Regions from separate parts of the Homo sapiens genome. Here region 2 is linked to region 1. Evidence: fine-mapped expression QTL. A gene starts in region 1. The other region holds a variant in brackets. All regions are shown on one strand. Distances are from middle to middle. Region 1 holds the start of PLEKHG4 (pleckstrin homology and RhoGEF domain containing G4). Region 2 has its middle 5.3 kb from the start of TPPP3.

The links.
Region 2: its variant is fine-mapped to the expression of PLEKHG4 in whole blood (TOPMed, PIP above 0.99).

Annotation. Positions count from the first base shown.
Region 1 is chr16:67,278,164-67,281,167 of GRCh38, forward strand. It overlaps PLEKHG4 (pleckstrin homology and RhoGEF domain containing G4), which reads left to right and starts at 1,369. Exons shown (of 22, transcript NM_001129729.3): 1 at 1,369-1,463; 2 at 1,713-2,380; 3 at 2,548-2,643; 4 at 2,719-2,842; 5 at 2,928-3,004. The coding sequence starts at 1,882. It overlaps LOC124903701 (a long non-coding RNA gene), which reads right to left and starts at 1,248. Exons shown (of 3, transcript XR_007065092.1): 1 at 986-1,248. RefSeq lists silencers at 862-1,021, 1,072-1,501, 1,221-1,402.
Region 2 is chr16:67,386,901-67,389,400 of GRCh38, forward strand. No RefSeq gene overlaps it. Among named protein-coding and RNA genes, the nearest start is that of TPPP3, 5.3 kb to the right of the region's middle. The variant A/G (reference allele first, on the strand shown) is at 1,490.

The sequences.
Region 1 (3,004 bases):
TTCCTGAAGCCAGGAGGGTGGGAAGAGAGGTCTGGCTGGGAGTTAGGGATGGAGCAGGACAACTCCAAGGCTCCCCTCTGGCAGCCAGACCTGCTCATGAAGAAGGCTCCTCGGTAGCTGCCTGAAAGTCTGGACTCTGGGGGCTGGGCTGGGCTGGGTGGGGAGATTGCTGTTGGTCCCACTGTGCCTGTTGTAATCCCCAGGTTCATGAAAGAGGTGCCTGCCTTAGAGCCAGGGAAGCCGTTGCACCCGGTGCCCCCTCTCCCCAGGGACCATGGGCCTGGGCACACTGTGGGGCTCAGGGTCTTCTCCTGGTCGCAGAGCTGACCTTCCCACAATCTTCCCACAAATTCTGGGGAGTGTCGGGCCAGGCCCACATGCCCTAAAGGGACCTCAAATCGCACAGCTACCCACTTGGGTAGCTTTCATCAGTTCAGGATTCCCTGACTGCGGGTGAAATGAGGGGGCAGGGCACCAACACAGCCCGAGTGCTGGCAGCGGGTGAACGTATAACACAGGGAGTCTTCCCCAGTCCTCACGGCAACCCCAGGAGAAAAATGACTTTCCATTTTTACAGGTGAGGAGGGTGAGGCTCAAAGAGCAGAGTTCCTGGAGCGCCCCCAGCAGGTAAGTGGAGAAGCCAGGCCTGGGCTGGGGGCTCTGGCTCCAGAACCCCACCTCAGCACCAGCCTCCTGCACCGGACTTTGTGGAGAAGGGGGTAAGGGGGTGCCAGGGATGGCAAAGGGGTAGAGGATCTGGTGGACTCTGGCAGGCCTGGGTCAGCTCCACCCATTGGTCTCACTCCCACCCGGATGGCAGCCCCATCCCACGTGGGATCATGCGACCTGTCTCTGGGTGCCCGCGGCGAGGCAGCACCCCGCTTCCCTACACAGAAGGCCTTCCCCTCCCGTCGGCTCATTCAGCCGCGGAAGCCCCTGGGAGACCCCGCCCCGCCCCGTCCCGCGGTGCCCCCCGCGCACTCACCCTCGCTCACCCACGCGGCCTTCCTGGCGGGAGAGCGCTTCCGGCGTCCTCGCCAGGCCCGGGGAGTGGGCACGGTGGAGCTGCCGACCGTTGGTCGCTGCCCCAACCCACGCACTGCGACGCCGCGGGTGAGGCGCGCGGTCTGCGGGGCCCGGGGGTGCGGCGGGGCGGGGCTGGCGGGCTGTCCGGGCCCACGGAGAGGACGGCGGCGGGCGGGGGTTGCTGCAGGGCCCGCACCTTGTCTTCCGCGCCGGCAGGGCTGTGCCCCGTCGAGACCTGCTCGGGCTGTGGCTCCGTCCTCCGGCCTCCAGGGGGCGGCGCGGCGCTGCGCGGCGCCCCGGCGGCACTGCCCTCCCTTCCCAGCGGCCAGGAGGCGGTGTCCCGTGACGCCGCGCGGCCGCGCTGTAGTGGCCGTCGAGGCCGCCGTCTGTTCGAAGGCTGTCCGACTTCACGGTTCCCCGCGGCTCGGCCCGGGGGCGTGAGTGTCGCCAGCGGGCGACGGGGGGGCGCGCGGTAGGCCCTGCAACAAGGCCAGGGCCTGGGGGGGCCGGCAGGAGAGCGAACCCGAGGCATCGTGGTGCCATGGCGGGGCCGCCCCCACGGGCATGGGCCTGCAGAGCGTGGCCGTGAGGACGCTGAGGGTGGGCGCGCACGGAGCAGAGGCCCACGGGCGTCCGACGGGGGACCTGGACAGAGGGACACCCTTAACGTTATTCCCTCTTCCCAGGCCTGAATTGCAGTTCCTGTGCCCTGGCACTAAGACTGGCACCTCCTGCGGCCCATGCCCTTCGCCTGCATTGCCCACTGAGTCCCACTCGACTGTCTTCAGCGCGGTTCACACTGAGACCCAGCCCTCTCCCGCTGGCCCCGAGCAGGCCCACCTTTAGGAGGGCGTGATGGAAAGGCCCCTGGAGAATGGGGATGAGTCCCCAGACTCTCAGGGCCATGCCACCGACTGGAGATTTGCTGTGTGCAGTTTCAGGGATGCCTGGGAAGAGGAGGAACCTGCTTCCCAGATGCACGTTAAGGACCCAGGTCCTCCAAGACCACCAGCCGGGGCCACCCAGGATGAGGAGCTACAGGGCAGCCCCTTGTCCAGGAAATTCCAGTTACCCCCAGCTGCAGATGAGTCGGGGGATGCCCAGAGGGGCACAGTAGAAAGCTCCTCAGTCCTGTCAGAAGGGCCAGGCCCCTCTGGAGTGGAGAGTCTCCTATGCCCCATGTCCTCCCACCTCAGCTTGGCACAGGGTGAGAGTGACACCCCAGGGGTAGGGTTGGTAGGGGACCCAGGTCCAAGCAGGGCGATGCCATCTGGCTTGAGCCCTGGGGCATTGGACAGCGACCCTGTGGGCCTTGGAGACCCTTTATCAGAAATATCAAAGCTGCTGGAGGCAGGTAAGGAAGGCTGGGCTAGGGAAGTCTGGGAAGGGAATGGGGATGCCTGGAGAGATGAGTGTCAAGACTTTGGAGGTCTCTGACCCTACTCAGGCTGAAGCCCGGGTCCAAGTAGGGGTCTCTGGATAGGTGGTCCAAGGCAGACCCAAGTCATTTCCCTTCCCAAGCCCCCAGTGGATCCGGCCTCCCTAAGCCTGCTGACTGCCTCCTGGCCCAAGACCTCTGTTGGGAGCTGCTGGCCAGTGGTATGGCCACCTTGCCAGGTAGCCAGGCGGGCCTAGAGGCGGTGGAGGTGGAGTGGCCCAATACGGCAGGAGTTCACTGCTTCCTCCCCACAGGGACTCGGGATGTCCAAGGCCGGGCAGTGCTGCTTCTGTGTGCCCACAGCCCAGCCTGGCTTCAGTCTGAGTGCAGCAGCCAGGAACTCATCCGCCTCCTGCTGTACCTGCGAAGCATCCCCAGGTTTGAGGGAGGGGGTTGGGAGACTGAGCCTGAGCCAGCTGTGAGGACTGGGAGTCAGGTACTGAACTGAAGCTCACCCCTTTAGGCCCGAAGTACAGGCACTGGGACTGACAGTGCTAGTTGATGCCCGAATTTGTGCTCCAAGTTCTTCCCTCTTCTCTG
Region 2 (2,500 bases), 110 kb after region 1:
GCCAGAAGTTTCTTTGAGCTGCAAGGCTCTGAGGGAGCTAGAGCGAGCTTGTGCTCTGTGGAAATGTCAGTAAGAGCAGCCTCCCTGCACCCCCGCTGCCTCTTTCCTGGGCCTGTCTTTGTCTCCCAGGTAGGGGAGCATCAGCCAGTGGCCTTGCATCCCTGAGTTGTTATATTTCAGGGTCTCAGCCCAGTGCACAGGCCAACCTAATGGACACACCAGGGGGCAGGGAGGAATAATGCACTGCTTTCCTCCAACCCAGCCCTTCCTGCCTCCTCCATGAACACCTGATGGTGCTAGCCCCAGAATCCACTCAGGACACCTCCTAAGGGGAACAAAGAGCCTGGCCCAGTGTGTGCCACCCTCCACCCCATTTGCCATTGTCATTGAAAGTGACCGACCCTGCCCCAGGCCAGGCACCTGCTAGGTTTGCTGGCCACTCCTGGGGAAGTCATCTGTTTCTGATTTTTCCCTGTATGGCACTTGTTCTACAGGGCACGGGTAGGGGTTGCGATGTTAAGGAGAGAGCCAAAGAGCTCAGGGCAAACTGGACTCAACATGGAAAGCGGAGGACCCTTTAAACAAGCAGAAAACACGTGGAGCAGAATCCCACACCCTAGGCCTGGCACTACCACCAGAAAGCAGGACAGGTCTGGGATGGAGACTGGTCCTCAGGGAGGTTCTATGTCCAGAGGGAGGGGCAGAGCCACTCTTAGGTTGGGAGTTCTCCCAGCCATACAGAGCAGGTTTTAAAGGCTCTGTCCCTCTGATCCTAACCTCTCCTTTGTCTAACCTGATTTTGCTAGCAAGGGTATCCAAAGCTTTCAACCACAAGGAGGCTGTTAGGGGAGGGGCAGTGGCATTGCTGGGCAATGGCTGTCATGTGCCAGATTCTGCTAGACCCGTCTGGTCTTAGGGTCCTCCCAGCCCTGAGTGGGCCTTAAATTCCCTCGGGCTTCATAACGGCATTTCGAGAAGAGGCGGCTTTACTCCTATGACGTGGGGTTTTGGGGCTCAGCCATTCTCTCTGTGTTCTTCCAAGCCATACTGCCAGTCACAGGAATGGAGAAGCCGCTGGGCCCTCTACCATTGGATGGTACTGTCACCTGCAGTGGAATAGTGGGAGCCTGGCCCAATTTGGAACACAGTTAAATTTGTTTCCCTGTGAGGCTGTTCTGGTGAAAGCCAGAGGATTTGGGTTTCACTCCTATTATGTTCATTTTAAGCTTGCAATTCAAACGAATTTTCCAGGGCTAGAGGAATTGTTCCTCTGCATTTTTTTTTTTTCATTAAACGCCTTGCATTCTACCTCTTAACATTTGCTGGTGGGAGGATCTGCCTGAAGGTCCCTGAAGCTCTTCCCTGGGCCACTCAAGGAGACGCGGTCAGCTGGGTCAGGAGGAGCCGCGCTGTGAGGCAAGGCTCTGCTGTGGCCAGGTGCCCACCTGCTGCCTGCCGATTCCCGCCTGACATCCCTGTCTCAAGCCAT[A/G]CTATTCCGCTACACCCCTGTCCCCAAGGAAAGCTGGGCTTAAGGGATGTGGGGCCACCTGGGCAGGAGCATCCCCCAATAGACTGTGGGATGAGAGGATAAACAATGGTGCTGCTTTGTCTTGTGATCTGGGTCAGGAAAGCAGGCATTTGGGAACTGGCCCTTTTATACCTTTTCTAGCCCCTTTGGGAGCCACCCTCTCCTGGGTAGGCCCTAAAGTCCCATCCAGCCCCATTTTCACAGCAAGGAAGGAAGGAGAGGTAGCCCGAAAGCCTTGGCTTGGGAATAGCTCTGTCAAAACACCCAGAGCCTCAGTGAGATGATCTGGAAACGCCCAGGCATCCTCAGGACCAGAGAGGCTCCCTTCCCCCACTAGGGATGTGGAACAGATGGGAGGACATCAAAGAGGAGGCCCCTTTACTGAGGGATGCCCTGCTCCCACCACAGGCTAGTGTTGGGTGCCAAGCCCTATCACCAGTCAGCCAGTCCCAGTTTTGGAAGTCAATGCTGGGGCTTGCTAGAAAGAGCCTGGCCTGGGAGGCAAGAGGCATGGTCTGGCCTCTAGTCTGCAGAAGCCCCTCCACCTCTCTGGATGTTTCCTCAGCTATAAAATTACGGAGTCAGATGAGCTACTCTCTTTTTTTTTTTTTTTTTTTTTTTTTTTTTTTGAGACAAAGTGTCTGTTGCCCACACTGGAGTGCAGTGGCGTGATCTCGGCTCACAGCAACCTCCAACTCCTGGATTCAAGCGATTCTCCTGCCTCAGTCTCCTGAGTAGCTGGGAGGGACTACAGGCACGCAACACCATGCCCAGCCAATTTTTGTATTTTTAATCGAGACGGGGTATCACTATGTTGGTCAGGCTGGTCTTGAACTCCTGACCTCATGATCCACCCGCCTCAGCCTCCCAAAGTGCTGGGATTACAGGCGTGAGCCACCGCGCCCGGCCTGGATGAGCTACTCTCTAAGGTTCTGCCTGGCCCTGCGTTTTCTGTATTCTGAGCCAGAACCC